Regions from separate parts of the Homo sapiens genome. Here all the other regions are reported to be linked to region 3. The links are microRNA targets in miRTarBase. Many come from high-throughput screens and were not tested one by one. Region 3 holds a microRNA gene; each other region holds the end of a gene's coding sequence.

What was found. The annotated mature microRNA hsa-miR-4691-3p reads CCAGCCACGGACUGAGAGUGCAU and lies in region 3 at 1,119-1,141, shown strand. An mRNA with a match to its seed (bases 2 to 7 or 8) in the 3' UTR can be bound and repressed. Matches are read on the target gene's strand: a 7mer-m8 pairs with bases 2 to 8, a 7mer-A1 pairs with bases 2 to 7 and ends in A, and an 8mer does both.
Region 1: the mRNA of CLIC6 is a reported target of hsa-miR-4691-3p. Seed matches in the 3' UTR shown: 7mer-A1 at 3,895-3,901.
Region 2: miRTarBase lists RAB44 as a target of hsa-miR-4691-3p. Seed matches in the 3' UTR shown: 7mer-m8 at 3,343-3,349 and 7mer-m8 at 3,455-3,461.
Region 4: miRTarBase lists MFSD2A as a target of hsa-miR-4691-3p. The part of its 3' UTR that is shown has no 7-base or 8-base seed match.

The regions. Positions count from the first base shown.
Region 1 is chr21:34,713,660-34,721,372 of GRCh38, forward strand. CLIC6 (chloride intracellular channel 6) reads left to right here. Exons shown (of 6, transcript NM_053277.3): 6 at 2,662-4,564. The coding sequence ends at 2,823. Among named protein-coding and RNA genes, the nearest start is that of LINC00160, 20 kb to the right of the region's middle.
Region 2 is chr6:36,729,583-36,737,295 of GRCh38, forward strand. It overlaps RAB44 (RAB44, member RAS oncogene family), which reads left to right. Exons shown (of 14, transcript NM_001257357.2): 13 at 1,091-1,167; 14 at 2,421-3,602. The coding sequence ends at 2,511. It also overlaps the pseudogene GPR166P. Among named protein-coding and RNA genes, the nearest start is that of RAB44, 36 kb to the left of the region's middle. RefSeq lists an enhancer at 5,678-6,179.
Region 3 is chr11:68,032,831-68,036,095 of GRCh38, forward strand. It overlaps MIR4691 (microRNA 4691), which reads left to right and starts at 1,067; the gene lies at 1,067-1,151. NDUFS8 (NADH:ubiquinone oxidoreductase core subunit S8) reads left to right here. Exons shown (of 7, transcript NM_002496.4): 4 at 93-182; 5 at 281-453. MIR7113 (microRNA 7113) reads left to right here and starts at 34; the gene lies at 34-92.
Region 4 is chr1:39,967,327-39,975,039 of GRCh38, reverse strand. MFSD2A (MFSD2 lysolipid transporter A, lysophospholipid) reads right to left here. Exons shown (of 14, transcript NM_032793.5): 10 at 7,329-7,412; 11 at 7,124-7,236; 12 at 6,563-6,706; 13 at 6,295-6,471; 14 at 5,084-5,535. The coding sequence ends at 5,472. Among named protein-coding and RNA genes, the nearest start is that of MFSD2A, 16 kb to the right of the region's middle.

The DNA.
Region 1 (7,713 bases), not on the chromosome of region 3:
AAGGAAAAGGAAAGGAAAAAAAAATAAAAGAAAACGAGAGAATGTTCAATGGGGAAATTACTTTGAACTAAAGGATGACCTGAATCTTCAGTTTAAATGACATGCCATGTTAAACATTGCCCCAGAAAGATCAACACACTGAGACATACTTGATACATTACTGAGCTTTGAGAATAAAAAACAACCCTTTTTGGCACCTAGACAATAATAATACTGTAATACCAACAACAGTAATAATAATAAAAAGAATGAAATAGAGTAAAGCCAGTGAAACAGGGAAGAAATTCAGACTGGCCCCAGATGTCTTCATGAACCCATTAAAAATCAGAAAATTGTGGTTTAACATCTACAGAGAATTAAAGAAAATGATGTATGAGGTAAGAATTTTATATCTAGGCAATTACCGTTTTGACCTAGACCTCTGGTCTCTTTTTTAAAAAACATAAAATTGTTCTATGATGAAATAACAAAATCATAATCAAAGTAAGAATCCAGAAACAGAGAAGGTGTGTGAAATAAAAGAACAGGCCCTAAACAGAGAACCCCTTTAAATCTGAAACTAGTCCTAAGACCAAACAGCAGTGGGAATTATACGGACAGAATAGAGTCAGAATATAATAAACTATGTCATTACCACCATTGGAAGGAGGATAATACAGAAGAAATGGAAAGAAGCACAGATACATAAATTCCCTCATTTGTCATCATCAGGAGTTAACAGGCAGCATCTAAAATTAGTAAATCAAGGCCGGGTGCAGTGGCTCACACCTGTAATTCCAGAACTTTGGGTGGCTGAGGCGGGTGGATCACTTGAGGCCAGGAGTTCGAGATCAGCCTGGGCAAAATGGTGAAACCCCGTCTCTACTAAAAAGACAAAAATTAGCTAGGTATGGTGGTGCACACCTGTAATCCCAGCTACTCGGGAGGCTGAGGGAGGAAAATCGCTTGAACCTGGGAGGTGGAGGTTGCAGTGAGCCGAGATCCTCCACTGTACTCCAGCCTGGGTGACAGAGCGAGACTGTCTCAAAAAAACAAAAAAAAAAAAAAAAAACTTGATAAATCAAGAAATAGAGAATTCCTATATATTTAAATTTATGTAGGAAACCACTGGAGAATTAACATGACCATAAACCTTTTAAATGACCAGAAAGAGGGACACACACATGCATACAGAAGAAAGAAAACCAAGTTCAGTGTCACGTTCATAGGCATGGCCTTAAACAATGTACTCAGGAATGTTAAAATAAAAAGATGGGCAAAGAAAAACCAGGTACATACAAACAAAAGTAAAACGGACTTCTTAACATGAGCATCAAGAAGTTGGCATTCAAGGAAGAGGTGTCAAACAATTTAGGAGGCTCTCTGAAAATTATATGGTCCTTCTTTGCTGTCACATTGCATCAATGACTGCTGGCCTCCAAAGTCTGCGCAGTAAGCCCCAAAGATCTTCTCATTAACCCCATGCCTGCATCATGCAGACATCCTGGGAACCAGTGGGACAGGAGGCAGCAAAGCCCAACTGGCCTTTATGGCTCTGGGTCTCCACTTCAGGTTGAATTGTGCCCTCCTCCCAATTCCTGTGTTGAGATCCTAACCCCCAGTAGCTCAGAATGTGACCTTATTTAAAAATAGGATCTTTGCAGATGTAATTAGTTAAAATAAAGTCATCGTGGAGTGAGATGGACCTAATCCAGGATGGCCAGTATCGTTGCAAACTGGGGAAATTTGGAAAGAGAGACACAGGGAGAAGGCTCTGTGAAGATGGAGTTATGCTTGCACAGCCAAGGCACTGCCAGAAGTGGAGAGAGAGCCTTCCCTAATGCCTTCAGAGGATCCATGACCCTGCTGATACCCTGATCTTGGACTTCTGGCCCCCAGAACTAGGAATCAGTAAACTTCTGTTGTTCTAAGCCTCCCAGCATGTGTTACTTTATTATGGCAACCCTAGCAAACTGGTACAGTCCCCAGTGTTCTGCACATCTTTGTGACTAATTCCCCAACTGTACCCCTCTTGCTAGAGGAAGTATCTCACACTGCTGTGTTTCTCTTGGTGCTGTCTCTCGACTGCTTCTTCCTTACACCCACCATCCCCATGAGGGTAGGGATTTGCATCTGCTTTGTTCATGAATCTCTCCTCCGCACAGGCGGGCCCCACGATCAGACGATGCTCTTAGTGGCAGCATGATGGCATTCAGGAGGATTAACATGCACAGATGTTTGGGACTGGAGAAGTGAGGTTCAGCAAGTAGGAAGAAGAGAGGGCACCATTTAAACAGCAGATCCACCATGCGTCTTTATTCACATAGCACCAAGTAACACAGTAGCACAACATATGGAAAGAAAGTAACAGGCAACACAAAGAGAAATCCACCAGAGTCCAGAGCATACTCGTGCCAGCGGATTCCAAGACCCATCTGTGACAAACTGGTGGGCAGAACTATGTGCAGTCACTGTAGTGAGTACAGGAACTTCATAGCCCTCCTCACACCCAAGATGGCCCTATGCAAGTCAAGATGCCGTGGTGGGTAGCCCGGATGACTGTGGGATGACATGGGAAACTGGGAAAGAATGTATTGCATGCCTCAGAAGAATGGACTGTCTGACTTGGGAGCCTACCTTAGCAAGTTTTCCCTTTACTGATCATTTTCTCTTCATTTTCAGATTGTGGCCAAGAAGTACAGAGATTTTGAATTTCCTTCTGAAATGACTGGCATCTGGAGATACTTGAATAATGCTTATGCTAGAGATGAGTTCACAAATACGTGTCCAGCTGATCAAGAGATTGAACACGCATATTCAGATGTTGCAAAAAGAATGAAATGAAGCTGGGCTGTTTTCTGTCTTATTTCTCAGTTGAGTGAGCAAGGATACGAAAACAGTGTGTTTGAAAACAAATTAGGTTTGGGTTCAATTCCTTCAATTTTTAAAAAACTGGTCTCTGAGAGTTTTTTAAATCATTGAGAGCCTGTTTTTCTTCTCTAAAACATTAGTTTAATTTTCTTCAAAATGAAAATACTGCTTTGTAATTACAAAATGAGACACACCTATCTTGATATTTTAAAGCAATATCAGAGGGTGTAAAGAAGGACATTTTAACAATCGCCTTCAATTTTACTCCACTTAATTACCGAAAACTTACTGGAGAACATGTTCCAAATCTTCAGTATCTTGTTCTCTCTCTCTCTCTCTCTCTCTCTCTCTATCACACACACACACACACACACACACACACACACACACAATTTCATTCATATATGGTATTGCATTATTTTATTTTAAAGCACTGGTGAGGGGACCTCTTGGTGATTCCTGGATGATCATACACAGAGGACTTACACCATACAAAAATATTGGGCACCGCAGTGCCAGAGAAGATGCTTGAGGTTAGATTTTAAGGAGTGGGGAATTGTGAAGCCCACAGATGCGCACGCAATGACCAGCAGGAACCGGAAGCCCTGGGTCACCCCCACTCTGCCTCATTTCTGCCTCCAGGATGCCACTGCCTCTGCTTCCAGGAAAGGCAAGGGGGAGGGTGCTTATCCGTGTCTCTGGTTCCAGCTTCCTGTCTTTGCTCCCTCCCCTCTCTTAGAGACTGTGCCTTCAGCAGGACTCTTAATATCTGCTGCAACTTGGAGAACCTCCCTGCCCTGAAATGTGAACCAAGCACACTTTGGTTCCTTCTCCGGGCGGCTCTCTCTGAGACCCAAGGCTGCAGTCCCTCAGTGCTGGTGGTATCGTGTGGGGATAGCAATACTTCTCTGCCCTTCATTGTCTCATCTAGACATCAAGCAGGGAAAATCCAGGGAGATTAAATTCATGGTGACAAGTCCTGGGCAGTTCTGGTAAACGGTCCAGTTAGGGAGGGAGTAGAAACTATTGACTCAAAAGAGTTTCTGGCTGATCTGTGGCTTTGCCTCCACCATCCCTAACCAACCTCTCATCACAGCTTTGTGTGTGGGCTGAGTGCTGGCCTTAACCCTAGGCGTGGAAGAGAAAATGTGAGGTTGTTTAGATACTCATCAGGACCTCACAGGAGCTGAGACTTATCAGCCAGAATGTGTTCTTCGGACAGTCGTACACATCTTACAGAAAACCCTCCTTGTAGAGTTGGTTGTGGTATGTGTTTGATGCTATAAAGCTCATTTTTAATGTGTACACCTGCTCTAGGGACGATTCGTTTGAAAGAGAGTAAGATGCATTAACAGAAACTATCCTGGGATTAGGTGAAAAATGTCTAGCAAAAGAAACAAAGTCTTTAATAGAGTGGCCTCTTTCGCTCTTCGATTATGACTGCTGCAGTTTTACCCCAGCAGTCAGCTGTCTTTGTCAACCATACGTTTTTGGAGATTGGGTCTAGCACATGTCACCCTTGTCCACGTTGTTTCACATCTGGTTAGGGGGCAGATTTTAAAATGTAGTTTTGTAATGTTACATTTAAGCATGATAAATGATTAGACTACCAGATGTTACTAGTGCTAACTTTGTATTCTTAGACATTAAAATGATTGACATAAACTCTTTGTGCCTTGAAAATGAAACAAATTATAAAAATGTTTAAATGGAACCAATTTCTTTTGGGTTTTATTTTTTATTTTTTATTATTTTTTGCATTCCCCATTCTCCATTTAGGTTTCAAGAAATAAAATGAATGGTATGGGCTTCTTTTAAAATGGTGAGGACAGGCCTGGCATACCGGCATAGTGGCTCATGTCTGTAATCCCAGCACTTTGGGAGGCCGAGACAGGCAGATCACCTGAGGTCAGGAGTTCAAGACCAGCCTGGCCAACCTGGTGAAACCCCATCTCTACTAAAAATACAAAAATTAGCTAGGCATGGTGGTGGGCACCTGTAGTCCTAGCTACTAGGGAGGCTGAGGTGGGAGGATACCTCGAGCCTGGGAGGTGGAGGTTGCAGTGACCTGAGATCACACCACTGCACTCTAGCCTGGGCAACAGAGTGAGACCCTGTCTCAAAATGAAATGAAATGAAATGAAATGAAATGAAATGAAATGAAATGAAATGAAAAACAAAATAAAATAAAATAAAATAAAATAAAATAAAATAAAATAAAATAAAATAAAATAATGGTGAGAGCAAGTTTGAACCTGAGATTATGGGCATTTGAATTAGAGACAATCCATACTTCAGTTGTGAATCACAAAGACATTTTAAAGGAACCTTAAAGAGGCCTCCAAAGACACCCATGAACAGTCCTTGTCCAGGTGACTGGCATCGACACCCTGCTGGGTGTTCTTGTTCTACTTTTACGTGGAGTTGTAGGAAAGGAGCTGGTTCTGGGTGGTCTTCCCCAGCCCTGTCCCAACTCTGCCTTCAGCTCCGCCCCCAGCCCACACCTCTTGATTCTCCTAAAAACCTACATGTGTGTAAGGAGGTAAGAAATATTCCAGAGCTGTTCTGCTGGACCAAAATCTTCATTACAGTGTGTTTTAAAAAACAAAATGCATTTGTTCTTCAAGAGATACCATACAAAATGTAAACATGGACGAATAATGAACAAATTCTTCTTTTCAGGCTGTGTGGAAGTTTTTCTGGACGGAGAGGATTCCATTCTCAATTCTAGTTGCCCGAGAGGCTTGAAAATTAGTTCATAAAAACCCAAACTTTACCTTTTTTTTTATTTAATTGAGATGGAGTCTCGCTTTGTCGCCCAAGCTGGAGTGCAGTAGCTCGATCTTGGCTCACTGCAACCTCTGCCTCCCAGGTTCAAGCGATTTTCCTGCCTCAGCCTCCCAAGTAGCTGGGATTACAGGGCACCACATCAGGCTAATTTTTTTGTTTTTAGTAGAGATGGGGTTTCACCGTGCTGCCAAGGCTGGTCTCAAACTCCTGAGCTCAGGCGATCCACTTGCCTCGCCTCCCAAAGTGCTGGGATTACAGGTGTGAGCCACCACGCCCGGCCTCCAAACTTTCCTTAAGAACACAGAATGTCCTAAAGCAGGCTGGAAGGGAACATGAGAGCATCACAAGGTTCTACTTTGTGGATACTGCAGCATACGGAAATGCAATGACAGAATCCGCCCAGAAGAGGACTTCCAGAGACCAGAGGTCTCAATCATTTCCATTCTATAAGTCTATCTCTAAGAATTGATTATATGTTCAAGCCCTTCACCCCCAAGATAGGCGGACAGACAGACACACACACACACTAGACACACATACGTGTATACACCAATTTGTGACACCATTGTCACACACTCTCACATACTCATAAGCACACTCCCACAGACAGACATTCATGCACACCCTCCACCCCCACCCCGCATGCAGGATGAACTCCTTCCCCTCTCACCCTCCCCCAGTCGTAAGCAGTAACTCACTCTTAGCACAACCCACCCTGCCCTGAAGTTCCCCCTTCCAGTGGTTCATAATTAGGCTTTGGAAAATTTTAGATTAATGGCTTTTTTTTTTACATTTTAATTTTTTTTGAGACTGGGTCTCACTCTGTCGCCCAGACTGGAGTGCAGTGGCGTGATTTCGGCTCACTGCATCTCTGCACCCCATCCCCAGTACCCACCACCACAGGCTCAAGCAATCCTCCCACCTCAGACTCCTGAGTAGCTGGGACCACAGACACACACCACCACGCCTAGCTATTTTTTTTTTTTTTTTTGCATTTTTAGTAGAGACAGGGTCTCACCATGTTGCCCAGGCTGGTCTCAAACTCCTGAGCTCAAGCAATCCATGCGCTGTGGCCTCCCAAAGTGCTGGGATTACAGGCATGAGCCACCATGTCCAGCAGGCATTAAAAAAATTTTTTTTTTACAAGAAAATCTCAACCCTTCTTTTATTTTACAGTTAAGAGAACCAAGATGTCCTTCATTCTAAGCACACATAATTAACAAAGCCCTACATACATGAAATGGATGCATTGGGGGATGCTATTCACATGACAAAATGACTTCTCTTTCCATATATGGGTGTAAGTCTCAATTATCCTGTGGCCAATTTCCCTTCACACATTGGTATTTTGGTTTAATAAATTACATGCATTTCAGGCCATGGCCACTTTGTAAGGGATGTGTGTGGCCTCTGGTCACAAAGGGACTGACTACACTGTTCCTCAGGGCCTTTGCAGGTCTGGGGTGTCAGGAAGCCCTTTCTGCTTCTGGGATCTCAGGGACCCAGCAGGAGTGGCACCTGCCATTGCAGCTGGTGGATTGACACGGTCATTGTTCCCATTGCAGAGGGTTCTGGTGGAGTCCTCTATGAGCCTTGCCTTGAAGGAGGCCATTTAGGCAGGCAGAGTCGAAAGCTGCCTGGGGAAGTGGCGGGTCAAGTCATGGTCCAGAGGAAATTGTGTTCAGCAGCATGGAGCTGCATATTTGGGAGGAGGAAGCCATTTACTTAGGTTATAAGGCCTGGGATCGGGCCACCAATGGGATCTTATCCAACCTGTATTCATTTTACCCTTTTGTGGGACTGCCTACCCTATTGTTCAGTCCTACCCTATTGTTCTGGCTCCCATGGCCCCTGGCTCTGTAAGCTTGTCCTAACAACATTCTGGAAGAGAAACTATTTTTCTTGATGACACCTCCCTCTCCCATCTCTTCCTCGATCCCCTTCTGTAGTGGATTCTGTGATGTACTCCTGGGTGAGTGGACAAGGACAGTAGCCATCAGTGGCTGGCCTAGGATTCCCCATGGTTCAGCCGATCTGCTGGGCTCTGTCTCCCTGCAAAGGCCTCTTTCCAGG
Region 2 (7,713 bases), not on the chromosome of region 3:
AGCGATTCTCCCACCTCAGCCTCCTTAGTAGCTGGGATTACAGGCATGTGCCACCACGCCCGGCTAATTTTTGTATTTTTAGTAGAGACGGGGTTTCACCATGTTGGCCAGGCTGATCTGGAACTCCTGACCTCAAGGGATCTGCCTACCTCGGGCTCCCAAAGTGCTGGGATTACAGGCGTGAGCCACCATGCTCGGCCTTTTTCTTAAAAGTAGTAACTCATCCCTTTGACATAGTAATTTATCCTCTAGCAATTTATCGTAAGGGAAGACTCAGAAGTAATAATCCCTAAAGGAACACCTAATGGATACCCATGTATAACGTACAATCGAACAGGTTTATATGAGGGTTTTCAAATATTATTTATAAGAACAAACATTTGGCAGCAATTGGTGGTTAAACTGTGGATGTTCATGTGAGAGGTTAGTATTTGCCATTAAGAATCCTGTCTTGGAAAAATATTTAAGGGTGTGGGGGAAATGCTTACAATATAATAGAAAATCATATAAGCAGCTACAAATCTAGATATAGGTTAGGTTGAAACATATGAAATTGCTGATATTTGACTGGAGCTTGCCAAAAATAGCAATTTCGTGTGGTTTAACCTAACTGTACAGGACAGTTAGCCCCCGCCCCGTAAAAGGGTTATATAAAACAGAATGGCAATATCTACCCAAACACTAACAGCAGTGGTTTAGATATTGAGCTGGTACTGTCTTATACTATATCTTCCAATATTCCCCCAATGAAATATTTCTGAAATTAAAAAACATAACTAACATTTATAAAATGTCTCCAGGGGCATTTCTCCAAGTTGGGATGCAGGCTTCCCATGCCACTCCGAAGGCTGTGAAATGTCTCTTCAATGCATTCCTTGACACCTTGGCCAGCCGGGGTGAAGGGACAGTGGGCAAAGGGCTCCAGGCAGGGACCGTGGCCCACGCTGAGATGGGGCTGTCTTGCTCGCCACTGAGGTCAGCTTAGGGATGCATTGGGACTCTGATGGCCGGGACTTTAGTGGCGGGGTATGGCCTGGCCTTTCAGTTGTCTCTCCCAAGGCACATATGTCCCTCCCTGTCTGGCCTGCAGGAACTGGGGGTCTATTTTGGGGAGTGCAGTGCCGCCTTGGGTCACAACATCCTGGAGCCTGTAGTAAACCTGGCCAGGTAAGTGCTGCCCGCCCCCCGCCGCCCCCACCCCCCCCCTTGCAGAATCCTCTGGGACAGCTCCGGCCCCACTCTTGACTCCCAGGTGGGACAGGAAGGCCCATTCTGAGGAAATGGGTCAGGGAAGCACCTAGTTAAAGACCTGGGCTCACCAGTCTGAGGGGAGAGAGAGCCCTGCACTGAGAGTCTCCTGACTCCAGCTCTGCCCTTCCCGTTCGCTGAATCACTCCCCACAGGCACTTAGGCTCTCTGAGCCTCAGTTTTTTCATTTGCAAAGAGGGCTGAGAAAAGGAGTGTCTCTCTTCTGCTCCCAAACTTCCAGTAGCTTCCATTAAAATCCAAATGCTTTGCAATGGCCTGCAGCATCTCTAGTGCCATCTCCCCCACCCCTACACACACACACATTCACTCACACCCACACACACTCACACTCTTACACACACTCACACTCACACACACACACTTGCCAAGTTCCAGCCACTCAGAGACTCCCTCCCTGATCACCCACCTGCCATCACTATTTTGGATCACAGCCCCTGTTTGTGTCCTTCATGGCCCTTCTTGACACGACACATATTAATGATATATGCATTTATCTGTTTTCTTGTTGTCCAGGAAGGCAGGGCCATGTCTGTTTTGTTCAGCCCCTCTCCCCATACCTGGGACCTAGGTGCTCCATAAATGAATAAAATGAGTAAGGCATGAGGGGAGCTAGATCAGATGAGCACCATCTGGCACACAGTAAATATATCACGAAGAAATGAATGGACTTCTTTTGCTTCCCCAGCCTCCAAGCTCTCTCGGCACTGAGCCGCGCCATGGCCCTCTGCTTGGGATGCACCTCCCCCACCCTTTCTGCTGGCATACCTTGTCCATGGCTCAGTTCGGTCACCATCTCCTTCCTCCCCAGATCCCTCCAGGACCTGGTGTGAAGTCCCTGTGTGCCTCCCCATCATTCCCGGGCTGCAGTCACCCCTTTTCCTGTCTGTCTCTCTCACTACTCAAGGGAGGGAATGGTGGCTTCTTTGTCATAGTCAGAGTCCTGCACAGTGCCTGGCACATAGTAGGCCAGAAAGAGAAGGTCAAAGTCTCAGTGACTCAATTCTTCGGGTCTCATGTGGAATGCAGGGCAGGGGCAGAGCTGTTGTGGGGGTTGTGGGTGCGGCCTCCCACCCCCCAGCTGCACCCATGGGCCCATCCGTGCTGCCCGTAGGAGGTGAGAGAGAGGCCTGATGCCTGGCACTGTCACATAGGTCACTCAGGATGCAAGAAGAAGGCCTGAAGGACTCGCTGGTGAAGGTGGCCCCCAAGAGGCCGCCCAAGAGATTCGGCTGTTGCTCCTGATCACCTGTCCTGTCCTGGGTAGGATGGACACCCATGGGGTTTCCTGTCCCTCAGCTCCTGTCCTTTGTTCCTGGACAGCAACGACACAGAGGACCAGCTTGGAGGTTCAGGAAAACCCTTCTCAACTCAGGACTCGGATCCCAGAGCAGGGCCGCATCACCTCTGCCTTTCACACTCCAAAGGAGGGCTTTGCTGAGTGAACAAGGCTTGAGGGGCAGGGGTATGGCAAAACTCTCCAAACAAAGAAAGTCTAGAAAAACGACTTAAGGAAAATACACCAAAATATTGGCCGCACATCTGTGGGTGTAAAATTTTAGGGAGAATGTGGGGGGGGGGTGTTACTTTCCATTTTACACATATTTGTATTTTCAGATTTTCAACAATAACAGTATTCAATACATAATCAGAAAAAAGAGATGTGGAGGAGGAGGAGAGAAACTTCCCAAGGAGCTCCCTTGGGTGCTGCTGGCTCCTAATTAGTGTAACCTGTTAATCACATGTTGCTCGGTGTTAGAGCGGTCCCTCTGTGCTCTGCTTGGCAGGGCGCTGTTGGCCTGGTCTCCCTCGCTATTTCTATTTGCAAGCATGGGCTTTCTTCCCAGCAGAATCTGGTTCCTGGGAAGAGTAATGTTCCAAAGGCCTCTGATATGCCTCGATGCCCTCCTGTCTTCCAGAGCCCCAACCTCACTCCCTTTCCCCACCATACAAAACACACCTCCCAGGGGTCACATTTGGGGGTCCCGCCCCCTGCTCCAATGCCATGGTGTCCCCAAGCACAGGGCTTTGGCCTGAGTTGTCAGTCTCTGGATGCATTTGAGGGGCAGCTAGGGTGTGGCTGGGGGGTCCAAGCAGCTGGGGAGCCGAGACTCAGAATCATTCACACACTTCTATTTGGAGCTTTTGTGGAAGTTTCCAGAATTCCATAATATTCACCTCCTGAATGGTGGCTGCCCCTTATCAGCTAGGGCTGGGGTTTCCAGTGCCCTCGGAGAGCTTGCTTTAGAGTCTTGGAGAGACGGCCATGGTCTTCGTTTGTATGTCTGTCACATCTTACCATCATCACAAATTGAATATACAACATGTGCCAGGCACTGAATTTGTTTGTTTGTTTTTTGAGACAGGATCTCTCTCTGTTGCGCAGGCTGGAGTACATTGGCATGATCGCCACTCACAACAGCCTCAACTGTCTGGGCTCAAGTGATTCCCCCACCTCAGCCTCCCAAGTAGCTGGGACCATGGGCACATGCCACCACATCCGGCTAATTTTTTAGCTATTTGCAAACACAAGGTCTTGCAATGTTGCTTAGGCTGGTCTCAAACTCCTGGGCTCAAGTGATCCTCCCAATGTGCTGGGATGACAGGCGTGAGCCACCGCCCCCAGCCTGGGTTTGGTATTTTGTAATCCTTCAGGTACTGGGGAATTTCCTGGCTGAATCAATGGAAACCCCAGTTTCATAGGGGGACAAGCAAAGACAGTTCAAGGAACAGAGTTACAGAGAGAGAGAACGAAGGAGAAAGAGGGAGCAACAGAGGGCTGTTGCATCACACAGTCTTAGGCCCTGGCCCCAACCCCTCTTCTCAGTTCTGAAAGGAACGTCTCAGCAGCAGTGAGCCTTCCATCACCAGAGGCGCACAAGAAGACAGGTAATGCTTGGCAAAGGTGAGGTAGAGAAGATCCCAGCATCTGAAGCTGCCAAAGTTGGATTAGATTCCCTTAATGGACCCCATTCAACCTCCAGACTCCATGTGGATGATTCCCATGGTCCAGCTGATTCTTTGTGTGTTTTTGTTTTGTTTTGTTTTGTTTTGTTTTTTTGAGACGGAGTCTCACTCAGTCGCTAGGCTGGAGCACAGGGGCGCAATCTCGGCTCACTGCAACCTCCACCTCCCGGGTTCACGCCATTCTCCTGCCTCAGCCTCCCAAGTAGCTGGGCCTACAGGCGCCCGCCACCTCACCCAGCTAATTTTTTGTATTTTTAGTAGAGACGGGGTTTCACCATGTTGGTCAGGATGGTCTCGATCTCTTGACCTCATAATCCACCCGCCTCGGCCTCCCAGAGTGCTGGGATTACAGGCATGAGCCACCGCGCCCGGCCCTCCAGCTGATTCTTTTACTGGGCCCTTCACTGATCCTTTTTACCCCAATGTCTTCTCCCATCTCAGGTCCCCTCCCGCAGCCCACAAGCCTGCCCCTGAACTGAGCAGTTTCTCAGTGTGCTCAGAGAGAGAGAGAGAGAGAGAGAGAGAGAGAGAGAGAGAGAGAGAGAGAGAGAGAGAGAGAGGGGTGTGGGCTGCAGTGAGTGATGCTGGCCCTGGATAAGGATGGGAAACAGGTCCTATAGTTGCTAATGGCTCTTTCTCTGGGGCCCAGGGACCTGGCAGGCACCAACATCTCTGTCCTGTAGGCCAGGGAATTAATGAGGCAGGTAGGCAGGGTGTGATTCCTGGGAGAGGCAGTAGAGCAGACAGCCCCTGTCGTTTGGGGGCCCGGTACGGGAGTGGCCCCCAGGCCTCCCCGTCTCAGCTCAGCTCTGTTGTGGCCTCAGGCAACTCAGGTTCGCAGGAGGTGGAGTTCTGGGAGGAACTCCACACTGCCCAGCACCCTCTTTTGGCTTTCTTGGGCCGGATCCACCTGCTGGGCAGGGCACAGCTGTGCAAGGACCACCAGCCTTTCCTGCTGTCAAAGGGCTCACAAGCCAGGGAACAGGACCCAGGAACCTCAGAGCAGCACAAAGTAGGCAACGACAGCAGCAGGAGAAACTTGAGGTAGACTTCAGAGTGAACTTCCAGGCAAGTGGTGAGTTCTTGGGGCATGTCAGCCAAGGAGGCTCTGATTTAGGCTTAGCCAGAGTCTGATTAAGAAAAGGAGGGTGGGACTGGGCTGATGGGACTCAGGCTGTGGAGTGAGAAGGGAGGGCATGGGGAGAGAAGGAAGGCTGGGCAGGAGCTCTAAGAGAAGAGGGCTTTTGGGAGCTGAGGGTGAGCAGGGGCAGAATGACATCCCTCCTTTACCCAGTGCCTACCGTATGCCAGGCACTGTTCTGAGCACCTAGCTCGTGTTAATTCATTTAGCCCTCACACCATCAGGCGTGCTCCCCCATCTTACGGAAAAGGAAAGTACTGCATAGGGAGGCTGAGTAACTTCCCCGTAGTCACGTAGCAAGTAAGTGCTGGAGCCAGTGTTAAACGCAAACGCCGATACCCATAGACTTAACTCTGAAGTTATGCAACTGCTTACAGGAAGATGCGGATGCTTCGGGGAAGGAGGGGCCAGGTCCCTGAAGCCTCGTATTGCTCCCTGCCAATTCCTCTCCAGTAATAGTCCATGTCATTGGTGGGTGTGGACCAGGAAAAAGAGACGAAAAGGCAGTGATAAATGCCAGGAAAGTGGCTGGATGACAGCCTTCATCCAGGACAGGTCCTTCATTTCCCCTCCTCCTGCCGTCTCTGAAGCTGGTGGGACCCGGGAAGGTGGCCGACATCAGAATTCACAGAGGCCCCCTCTCCAGTCTCCCCTCAGCTGCCCTCAGGCACGTTGCTGCCCTGGGGCCCCAGAGACGAAGCCAAGTTCCCCAGGCTGGGGCTCTGCAGGAGGGACTCAGAGACTCCTTCAAACCTGGCTTTGAGCCCGCAGGAGAAGAGTGTCTCCAGCCCCCACCCCGGTGTGGTAGAAAAGGGGAGGGCAACTCCAGTAAGGACTCCTCTGCTATGTCTTGTTTGCTGCTGGATTCCGGGAACCTGGTCCAGAGCAAATGCTCAGGAAATATGTACTGAGTTAGCAGGCAAGCCTCCAGCTAAAGCTCCCGGGCCCTGGCCTGGCCTGCAGGGCGGCCAATGGTGACATCAGCCACTGGGCTGGCTCTAGGATGTCTACATCCCATCTTGTAGCCAGAGTCCTCCCAATCGGGGACTCCCCCTGCCCTTGACATGTGGGACAGAGTGGGGGTGAGAAGAAAGGTCTGACCACTGGGTGCAGACTCCCCCACTCTGCCAGGGGCCTGCACAGCATAACCTAGAGGGCAATGATTCCCAGGCTGGTCTGCCCTTAGAATTATTTGGGATCTTTCAAAAATGCTAAAGCCCAGACCAACTATGTCATGTCTCTGGGGGTGGGACCCAGGCTTCTGTATTTGTGAAACTCCTCAGGTGATCCCAAAGTGCAGAGAAGCTTGGGAACCACTGGAAGGGGCTTCACACCTTCTCAAAGCCCTTTCAGACCCACTTTTCCATTTGAACCTCAAATTAAACCTGCTTGTTTCACAGGGCAGGGTTTTTGTTTTGTCAAAAAATAGATACATATGTGTGTGTGTATGTATGCACATATATATTTATCAGATTATGAAAACAATGTGTACTCCCTGCAGAAATTTTAGAAATAAATTTTAAAGAAGAAAATGAAAATTACCCTAGTCTTACCACTTATGATAGTTACTATTGACATCTGTTTTATTTTATTTCCTTGCTTTCTTACAGCTGAGGAAACTGAGGTAGAGAAACATTAAGTAACTCTCCCAGGGGCCAGGTGCGGTGGCGCCTGTAATCCCAGCACTTTGGGAGGCCGAGGCATGAGAATCGCTTGAACCTAGGAGGCGGAGGTTGCAGTGAGTCAAGATCTCACTCCAGCCTGGGTGATAGAGTGAGATTCTGTTTCTAAAAAAATAAATAAATAAATAAATCCCAGGGTACTGGAGCTAGCAAGCAGCAGAGGCAGGATTTGAACCCAGGGTACTAATGGAGTCCATCCCATGGGGTTGTCATGAGGTCTGCAGGGGCTAATGTGTGCCAAGGACAGGCCTTATCTGGGCCCACTACATGCAGGGGGTCTGTGAAAAAAGGAGGCTTAGCAGGAATGGGGAAGGCGGCCTTTGGGGCTGGCTGGTTTCTACTTTGTCCTTGTGTGTTTGAAACAGAATGGAGCCCAATGCTACGTTCACCACGCAGCTCACGGCCACACCTGAGCGACTGCTCCGACTCATCTCTGCTGGGGTCTGTGGCCTCATCCTGCTGGTGGGGCTGTCAGCTAATGGGCTCATGCTGCTGGTGGTGGGCCGGGGCCCGGGCTCCCCCCACCCGCTCCACTCCCTGACCCACAGCCTCATGATGAACATCACGCCATCTGACCTGCTCTTCCTGGCCTGCGTGGTGCCTGTGCTGCTGCTGAGCTTCCTGCAGCACAACTGGTGGCTGGGCCCTGCCATCTGC
Region 3 (3,265 bases):
CTGGAAGTGAGGGCCAGGCTGCTCTCCCTGAGGCTCCAGGGAGACAGTGTGTGAGGCCTCTTGCCATGGCCTCCCTGCCCGCCTCTCTGCAGAGTATGTGAACATGCAGGATCCCGAGATGGACATGAAGTCAGTGACTGACCGGGCAGCCCGCACCCTGCTGTGGACTGAGCTCTTCCGAGGTGCGTCCTGGGCATGAGGGGACAGGGAAGGTGCCGGGTGGGCACGGATGCATGGGGGAGGAGGGTGCCCCTGCCCACCACACCCGTGCTGCCCACAGGCCTGGGCATGACCCTGAGCTACCTGTTCCGGGAACCGGCCACCATCAACTACCCGTTCGAGAAGGGCCCGCTGAGCCCTCGCTTCCGTGGGGAGCATGCGCTGCGCCGGTACCCATCCGGGGAGGAGCGTTGCATTGCCTGCAAGCTCTGCGAGGCCATCTGCCCCGCCCAGGTGAGCCCCTGCCCCAACCGGCCACCACGCCAGCCCCTGCCACTGGGAGAGGGAGGCCAGGCAGCCCTAGGCCCAAACCCTAGCCCCTGCTTGATGTGCGTCCCCAGGAAGTCCCTTTCCCCCTCTGAGCCACTTCCCTCGTGAATGGGAATGATGAGGGCTTGTTACCAGAGCACAGAGTCAGTGAGTTGGCAGAGTGAAGCTTCCAGCCCTGGGCAGGCGCCTGACACACAGAGGTTCCCCCTTGGGGTCTGGCCAAGGGTGTGACCCCTGGGCCTCTGAGCCATGGGGTGACACCTGAGGCCATCCACGCCTCCCTGGATGTAGCCACCGTTTCCGGAGTCCTGCTTGTGTGCCTGTTGCAGCTTCCCTTCCCCAGTGGCTGCTCCCCTGAGGCCCGGCTTTCCGTTCTCTTAGTGGGTCTCGTGCTTACCCGTGGGGGCCAGGCCTGCCAGCACGGGAACAATATGACTCGGTCAGAGCTCTGGTCAGACCCCTGTGTGTGCCTGGCAGGAGCCCCGGCAGCCGCCGCCGCTACTTTCTGTGTGCACAGCAACCCCTCCCAGTGTTCTGTGACTCGGGTGGCTCCTGTCCAGATCCTAGTTTGTCCTCTGGAGCACTCCCAGGTCCTCCAGGCCATGAGCTGCGGCCCTGATGTCTCTACTCCAGCCACGGACTGAGAGTGCATAGGAGTGTCCCCAAACAGCAGTCACGATGGTCACAACCTTGGCTTCCAGACAGTGAGTGCTGTCCACAGACAGACCCGGTGCTGTGCCATGTGTGTGACTCACAGCCTCTCCTGTAATCTCCACAACCCCTCGAGGAGGTCGAGGTTATTGTCTCCATCTTTATAAGCACTAAAGGATGAGCCTGCCAGCCACAGGTCCCACTGTGAGTTGTGGACACTACATTTCTGGGATGGGGGCATATGAGAGTCCTTGCCAAGCACATTTGAAGGTTTTCCCAGCCAGCCCCTCCCCCAGCGGGCTACCCAGGAACTGAGAGTTAGGACGTGCCCTTGAGTTTGGGCTGTGCCCCCACTTGCTGTGTAGCTTTGGGGAGCCCCTCAACCTCTCGGAACCTTGTTTTTCTCATCCATCAAATGGAGAGAAGTAGATTTAAGGCACAGGATTGCACCCAACAGTGTAGGCATTCTTGGCGATGTTGCAGGTTCGGCTCCAGACCATCGGGGTAAACTGAGTCACACAGCTGTTTTGGTTTTCCAGTGCATTTAAAAGTTAGATTTAGACCGGGCACAGTGGCTCATGCCTGTAATTCCAGCACTTTGAGAAGCCGAGGTGGGCGGATCACTTGAGGTCAAGAGTTCGAGACCAGCCTGGCCAACATAGTGAAACCCCGTCTCTACTAAAAATAACAAAACTTAGCCGGGCACGTTGGCAGGTCCCTGTAATCTCAGCTACTTGCTAGGCTGAGGCACGATAATCACTTGAACCGGGAGGTGGGGGTTGCAGTGAGCCAAAATTGAAAAAAAAAAAAAAAATTAGGGCCGGTTGCGGTGGCTCACGCCTGTAATCCCAGCACTTTGGGAGGCCAAGGTGGGCGGATCACAAGGTCAGGAATTCAAGACCAGCCTGGCCAACATGTTGAAACCCCGTCTCTAGTAAAAATACAAAAATTAGCCGGGTGTGGGGTTGCACACCTGTAGTCCCAGCTACTCAAGAGGCTGAGGCAGGAGAATTGCTTGAACCTGGGAGGCGGAGGTTGCAGTGAACTATGATTGCACCACCATACTCCATCCTGGGCCACAGAGCAAGACTTCGTCTCAAAAAAAAAAAAAGGATTTACACTGTACTGTAGGCTGCGAAGTGTCTAAAACACAATGTATATACCTTAATTAAAAATACTTTAGGGGCCAGGCACAGTGGCTCACACCTGTAGTCCAAGTGCTTTGGGAGGTCAAGGTGAGGGGATTACTTGAGCCCAGGAGTTTGAGACCAGCCTGGGCAACATGGCAAAACCCCGACTCTACAACAACAACAAAAAATACAAAAAATTAGCCCCTGTAGGCCCAGTTACTTGGGAGGTTGAGGTGGGAGGATCGCTTGAGCCTGGGAGGTTGAGGCTGCAGTGAGCTATGAGCTGCACCACTGTACTCCAGCCTGGGTGACAGGGCAAGACTCTGTCTCAAAAAACAAAAACAACAACAAAAACTTTATTCCTAAAAAGTGCTGACCCAGAGATAAGAAGCAAGCACATGGTTGGTAAAATGACATCAGTGAGCTTGCTTTATGCAGGGTTGCCCCAAACCTTCAATTTGTAAAACTCAAAATATCTGGAAAGCTTGGTGAGGCGAGGCGGGACTGTAACTCAGCACTCACCGCAGGGTGAGACCCTTAGGGCAGCGGGTGCTACACTGAACAAAGCGGTGAACAGCCCCCTCGTGAGAGGGGGTTCTTGGCAGATGACGCCAGCAGCTGACAAACAGGCAAGGCAGGCCGGGCACGGTGGCTCACGCTTGTAATCCCAGCACTTTGGGAGTCCAAGGTAAGCGGATCACAAGGTCAAGAGATCGAGACCATCCTGGTCTACATGGTGAAACCCCATCTCTACTAAAAAATACAAAAATTAGCTGGGCGTGGTGATGCACACTTGTAGTCCCAGCTACTCAGGGGGCTGAGGCAGGAGAATCACTTGAACCGGGAAGGCCGAGGTTGCAGTGAGCCGAGATTGTGCTGCTGCACTCCAGCCTGGCGACAGAGCGAGACTCTATCTCAAAAAAAAAAAAAAAAAAAAAAAAACCAGCAAGGCAGGGACGCCAGCAGGGCACGTGCTGAGGAGACAGGCGCGAGCA
Region 4 (7,713 bases), not on the chromosome of region 3:
AATCAGTCCTTTTCTATCTCCACTGCCTCCACTCGTCTTGTACTCATCAATACCACTCATCCTTGGAACATTACATGAGAAGCCTCTTCATTCGTCTTCCAGCTTCCCTTCTCACCTTCTTCAATTCTTTCTCCTCAGAGCAGCTGATAGGTCTTTCCAAACTCTTCATCTATCATATGGCTTCCCTGCTTAAAATTCTTCAATGGCCTCCCTCTGCTCTTAGGATAAGGACCAAAATGCTTAACACAACCCACGAAGCCATGTTGTGGACCATCTGCCTCTGCCTTCATCCTCAGCCTCATCTTGCATCCCATTCCCTCAATCTTTGTGCTCCAGGCACACTGGCCTTTCTGTTCCTTGACTCCACCATGATCTCCCTGGCCTCTGGGCTTTAGCACATGCTGTTCCTTCTCCCTGAGATACTCTCTTTTTTTCTTTGAAACAGAATTTCACTCTTGTTGCCCAGGCTGGGGTGCAATGGCACGATCTCGGCTCGCCGCAACCTCCGCCTCCCAGGTTCAAGCAATTCTCCTGCCCAAGTAGCTGGGATTACAAGCATGCACCACCACGCCTGGCTAATTTTGTATTTTTTGTAGGATGGAGTTTCACCATGTTGGTCAGGCTGGTCTCGAACTCCTGACCTCAGGTAATCCACCTGCCTCGGCCTCCCAAAGTGCTGGGATTACAGGCTTGAGCAATTGTGCCTGGCCTCATTCACTACACTCTGGCCACACTGGTCTCCTTTCTGTCCTTCCGATATTCCAAGCTCTTTGGGGCCTTGGGGTCTGCGTTGTCTCCTCTACTTGCAATGCTTTCCCTCTAAGCTCTCTTCACATTTAGCTAATTCTCATCCTTCATGAGGATCACTTTCTTTTTCTTTCTTTTTTTAAATTTTTTTAATTTTTTATCTTTAGTAGAGATGAGGTCTCACTCTATTGCCTAGGCTGGTCTCGAACTCCTGAGCTCAAGTGATCCTTCCACCTCAGCCTCCCAAAGTGCTAGGATTACAGGCATGAGCCACTGTGTCCAGCCAAATGTTACTTTCTCAGGACATTCTTTCCTGAGCACTTGACTTAAAGTAGTTCCGTACCAGTTTCCTCCATCACATCACCTCGCTTCTTTCATGATGCTTATTACGATCTGAAATTATTTATTTGTCATTGATCTCCACTGAGAATGTAAGCTCTATTTTGTTCACCACTTTGTCCTCAGAGCCTAGTTGGTGTGTGGCATATAGTAGACTCATTGTAAATATCTGTTCGGATCAATGGAATCGATATTCCAAAACAATGTCAGATCTGGAATTTCCTCTTTGAAACGTGGAGGTGCTGCTCCTTTCTTCCAGCAGGTGGCGCCAAAGCTGCACCTGGTCCTTACCAGAGGTGTGGATGGGCTGTGAGGTTGGCAAGACAGGGCAGCAGGGCCGAGTGAAGAGGGAGAGACAGGGTTTGTTGTAGTAATGCTGGATCCAAGCATAGAGGAAGTCAATATGGCTCTTCTCCCAAGAATAAGTAGGTATGATCTGTCCAGAAGGGACCTAGAGTAGCCAATGACCCAACAGACATTGCTTCCCCTCTTCACCCGTCCCACCCCGAAAGAAGTCCCCAAGAATTCAACAGGGGATCTTGGAAGAGGAGAGCAATTTTCTGTGAGTGTGAAACTGGAGAGAAGCAAGGGTGTTCAAGTGTAAATCCCCTGGCCGGGCGCGGTGGCTCACGCCTGTAATCCCAGCACTTTGGGAGGCCGAGGCGGGCGGATCACGAGGTCAGGAGATCGAGACCATCCTGGCTAACACGGTGAAACCCCGTCTCTACTAAAAATACAATAAATTAGCCGGGCGCGTGGCGGGCGCCTGTAGTCCCAGCTACTCCGGAGGCGGAGGCAGGAGAATGGCGTGAACCCGGGAGGCGGAGCTTGCAGTGAGCCGAGATGGCGCCACTGCACTCCAGCCTGGGCCACAGAGCGAGACTCCGTCTCAAAAAAAAAAAAAAAAAGAAAAAGAAAGAAAAAATGAAAAGTCTAAATCCCCATAGGAAGTTTGGGGAAATTGTGACCTGGAGAGAGGTGTCACAGTGGGTCAGTGGGAGTTGGGTCTGATGCCCAGCCAAAGCCTGCTCTGGTCACAGCTCCCATTCACTCAGCTCCACGTGCCTGCCGCACCCCACCATGCCTGGCCCTCGGCTCAGTGTGGGAGACCACGATGAAAGAGACGATCCCTCTGAGATGTCCCAAAGGCAGAGGGGTAGGGACTGCTTCAGAGGGGCTTGCTGGAGTCAAGACACATTGGATGGGTGTCTGCCAGGTAGAGCTGCAGCAGGAGCTGCAAGACCAGGGTCACGCAGGTGGCCTGCAAAAAGAGCTGCATCTAGATCTGGGCCTGGGGAGGTCAGTAGGGTACTCAGACAGGAACTCACAGAAGGATTTCTAGGAAACTTTTTGTTTTGTTTGAGACAGGGTGTCCCTCTGTTCCCCAGGCTGGAGTGCAGTGGCACAATCATAGGTCACTGCAGCCTCAGATTCCTGGGCTCAAGAGACCCTCCTGCTTCAGCTGCCTGGGTAGCTGGAACTACAAGGTGCAAGCCACCACACCTGGCTAATTGTTTTTTGTTTTATAGAATCGGGGTCTTATTATGTTGCCCAGGCTGGTCTTGAACTCCTGGCCTCGTAATCCTCACACCTCAGCCTCCCCAGTAGCTGGGATTACAGGCAGAGCCACTACACCCAGTTTACAGAAATGTTTCTAAACAGGAGAGCTACTGAGTTATCTTGGATAGTTTGCAGAAAGAAGGTGAGGAGATCAAATTAAAGTCAAGGAGACAAGACAGGATGCTTGTCTATTCACCCAGGTAAGAGAGCATAATGCCTGAGAAGTAATTGTGGGGCTAAGAAAGAAACAAGCTTGAGTGGTTTGGAAAACTTTAATTTTTTTTTTTTTTTTTTTTCAGGCAGAGTCTTGCTCTGTTGCCCAGGCTGGAGTGCAATGGCATGGTCTCAGCTCTTTGCAACCTCCGCCTCCCAGGTTCAAGCCATTCTCCTGCCCTCAGCCTCCCAAGTAGCTGGGATTACAGGCATGTGCTACCACGCCTGGCTAGTTTTGTTTTTGTTTGTTGGTTTTTGGTTTGTTTCTGTTTTGAGACTGGTTCTCTCTGTCCCCCAGGCTGGAGTGCAATGGCGCGATCTCAGCTCACTGCAACTGCTGCCTCCTGGGTTCAAGCGATTCTCCTGCCTCCGCCTCCTGAGTAGCTGAGATTACAGGCATGCACCACCACACCTGGCTAATTTTTGTATTTTTAGTAGAGACGGGGTTTCACCATGTTGGCCAGGCTGGTCTCGAACTCCTGACCTCAGGTGATCTGCCCGCCTCGGCCTCCCAAAGTGCTGGGATTACAGGCGTGAGCCACTGCGCCCAGCTGAAAACTTTAATTTTTTTTTTTTTTTAAAGACAGGACTTGGTGGTTACTGGTTAGAGTGGAGGGAGAGAGGAGGTATAAGTGGGCTTCTATAAACATTATCTCAGAGTCTCTGAGCAGGCCAGCTCCAGAGGCCATAACAGACTCTAGGCTCCTGCCTTGCCCAGACAGCCTGACATGAGATGGCTGATACAAAGACAGTGTGTGACTTGCCTTGGTGTTGACAAAACCATTGGTTCACCTAACAGCCTTAAGTAGTGGTTAAGAGCCCAGGCACTATAGCCAACCTCGATTCAAGTATCAGCTCTTCCAGTGACTGTCCAATGACCTTGAGCAGGTTACTTAACTTTTCCCTGCGTCAGTTTCCTTATCTCTTAACGTGAGGATGACAATAATACCTTCCTCATAGGGAAGTTCTGACAACTATCTGAAGACTAACTGAATTCATACTTATTACACACATGTAACCATGCCTGTTAGTAACGCTTAATGTAATTTATCAAAGTAACCTGGCAGAACTTCATCAGTAAAAATGGTGGACCTCCCTCCCACCCAAAACGGAGCCCCACACTCAAGGTAAGAACCAAGCCAGAATAGCCTAAGAGCCTCTCTTGTCTGGGCCTCATTTATCTATTTATAAAATCAGGAGATTTGACTAGTAGCTCCTGATCCTGCCAGCTTTGCCTTCTTGTGATTTTGGGGGCTTGGCCTAAGTGTGAGACCCAGTGGTGTGTTAGGCAAGCTCCTACCAGCTTGTAAAAGCCAACTACTAAATGTTTAGGAAATGTTCAAATGAACAACCATGGATAACTTGAAATTGGCTATGGTGGGAGTTATTCATACCATGGAAGTTAGCCAAGTGCTCCCAACTAGGCCTTCCCCACCACCCTGTTCCCTACCGGAGGTGTTTGGTTTTTTTTTGTCACCAGTGCGTCTGTGGTAAAATCCTCCCTCATCTGATACACACATCCAGCAGGTACATTCTCACCTTTCAATACCATCAGTAACAGTTGTGGAGAAAGAACCACCAGTCTCCAGGGACCCCACAGGCCTCCAGCCCCACCAGCCCTGCAGGCTCAGGCATGCACCAGGCAGGAAGCACAGTGTACAGGCACACCCAGAGCAAGCATCTGTCTGCCGGTCCCCTGGTCATTCTCAGACACAAGGAAGTAGACAGTGGCGATTACGGTATTGGAGTCTTACAGAGTTGGGATAAAATTCCAGTTAGGTCACTAAAGGCTGCGTGACTTTAGCTAAATCCCTCTCTACACTAGGGTGTTCTTATCTTTCAAATAAGAACAGTCTTGACTTAGCAAGAGGCCAGGTGTAGTGGTTCACACCTGTAATCCCACTACTTTGGGAGGCTAATGCAGGAGGATTGCTTGAGTCCAGTGAGAAGGATTGGCCTGGGCAACATAGTGAAACCTCCATCTCTACAAAAAAATTTAAAAATCAGCCAGGCGTGGTGGTGCATGCCTGTAGTCCCAGCTACTCGAGAGGGTGAAGCAGAAGGAAGGATTGCCTGAGCCGAGATTGCGCCACTGCACTCCAGCCACAACTCCAGACATGTTCGCCCCCACCCAGTAGCACCTGGGGCTCAGTGTGTTCTCTAACGGAGTCTTAAGGCAGAAGGGCTCAGTGAGTGGCTGAGGACACAGACAGAAACAGGCAGCTGCTTTCCAGCTTTTATGAAAATTAATAACATTAATAGCTCACAGACATATACATACACACACATTGCTATGTACACAGTCATTAAGTTATTAATTAGGCTCTGTAAAAAAAAAGGTTTCTACATTAGTGTTCCGGGCTAGGCCCGATCAGTCCTTGGCATATTCACAGTGGCAGCCCCAGGGCTTGGCCCCACAGGCAGGCAGAGGGGAGGCAGGAGGCCACAGAGCAGCCGGCCCCACAGTGAGCACAGCAAGTGTCCTGGGCCACCTCCTTGAGTCTTCAGTTCCCTTCCTAGCACCTGCAGTCCAGCTGCTCAGCAAGCCGGCAGACAGGTCCTGATCCCTTCTGTGGCCTTCTGCATGGTGGCTTCGGGCAACGTGGCGGGCCCTAGAGGATGCTAGCCAGCTCTGTGGAGTCTGTTTCTGAGCAGCCAGAGCTGCTGGCCTCGTCCCTGCAAGAGAGAGAGGAGATGGGTTGGAGGAAGCATCCATCCTTACCCCTCCTCAGCCCCACCTGCCTCCTTCCTCACGTGATCTTGGCCCTGCTGTCGGACTAAAGTGAACCGCGGGACACAGAGTTTGCTCACTCCCACTTTCAACTGTTGGTTGGTCTGTTTACTGTCCTTGCTGCACACAGGGTACTGCAAACCCTAGATCTACACTCTCGCCTGGGCTGGCTGACGGGCTGGCATGACTCACTCCAGCCTGCCCACTGGTTTCCCCAGATGCAGGGTCAGGCCACACTCGAGGTCCTATATGCCAGGAGGCTGATGAAGAGTGCAGTCTCTGGAGCCGGAATGCTGAGGCTCAAACCCCAGCTCCGCCCCTTTCAGCTGGGCCAGGTACTCTTCCTGCTGAAACCTCAACTTCTTCACCTGCAGAGGGGGAACCCTAAGAACCTGATACTTAGGGTTGTTGGAGGGGTATGGGAGGTGATGGATACACACGTCCTATAACAGGCTCCTTAAGGACAGAGATTTTTGTCTTGTTCACTAGAGCAGTCAATGCCTAGCACATAGTAGGCAGCCAGTATGTATTTGTTGAATAAAGGTAAGACCACTTAACACAGTGCCTGGTGCGTACTTAAGTGTTACAGCTGTCCAGAGAAGATGTGTGGGGGGTGAGTCTGGACTTGGCCACAGGAGACACAAATTGAGGGTTTAGACACAGTGACGTCCCCTCCTCCAGCATCCTGTCCCCTCCCCACTCACCTCAGTGCCTGCAGGGCCTTCTTATTCTGCCGCCGCCTCTCCTCATCAATGGGGTACATTTTGAAGAGCAGCAGGCCCAGCAGGATGAGAACTATGGGAGCCATGGTCACGAGCATGTTCAGTGTAAACTTGACACGTTCCGGCTGCGAGCAGCCACGGGTCTGGTACCCTGCAAAGCTATGGGACCCAGGGGGTAGGAGAACGGTGAAGATGGGGCACCTGGGGCCTGGCCCTGCCCAGTCCTGCCCCAGGTCCCCACCCCACTCACTCCAGACTGAGGGTAGAAATGCCCAGTGACACTCCAGAGGCAAACTTGGTGAAGAAGACATAGAAGGAGAAGAAGATGGGCTCGGTTCCATGGAAGTGGGGCTGCTTCAGATGGAAGTCGTCAATGACATCAGGCAGCATGGACCTGCGCAGAGTAGTGACAGCCATGAGGACTGACCCACCTAACGGGCCTCTGTGTTAATGAGAAGAGGTGGCCCTCTGGAAGCTTGCAGTACCATGGGTACACAGCTCAGTGAGGATATGGGACCTTCACATGAATAAGAAAAGGCCTCTTGCTCTAAGAGGAAGTAACCCTGCCTGGAGGTGCTCAGCGTGGCAAGTGGAGCCCAGGCCAGATTACAGCCCCCATTTTTCACTCTGACTAGGTGTTCTTGCAAAGCTCACTACCTGTACAACTGTACAGGACAGACCTCCCCCACTCCTAACCTGGACCCACAGAATGGCCTGTGGGAGAACACTGCATAGAACTCTCCCTAAGGAGCTTCAAAACTGGGGACTAGGGGCTGGAGATACCCGAGGAGGGGGGCCTGTATATACCTACCAGGGTAGTAAGAAGGCAGCTGCCACACTGATGCCAGCTGCCACAGCTACCGCATATGTAATGATGAGGTTACTCTCCATGAGGGCCACCAAGATGAGAAATGGCACTGCTGACTAGGGAAGGGGGTGCAGGAAGATGAATCAGCTGGGAGGTTCCCACCAGACATCCCAACTCAACCCAGGCTCTGCTCTTCAACCCCACTCACTGAGATCCCAACATATACAGCTGTCTTCTTGCCAAACCGGGTCAAGAACCACTGCCAGATGGGAATGGTTAAAGTGGCCGAGAGCTGTGGATGGACAAAGGGGGTTAAAGGGAGGTGCTTTAGAGCCACAGAGCCCCTCCTGCCCTTCCCAGAACCCCAAAGTGGCTCCCAGCCCTGCCCAAGAGCAGCCAGATGACATCATGTGGGCAGCAACGAAGATGACAGGCACCTTTGACGGCTCCCCAGGGGAGCTCAGAGCTGGTCCAGGCCCACCTTGTCTGCTGCCCTCTCAAACCTCTGAGCCAAGTTCCTGGTGTCCTCGCCCTTGCTTTTGCTGTGCTCACTACTCAAACATCTAACCTCAAACTCTTTCTTTCACAGTCCT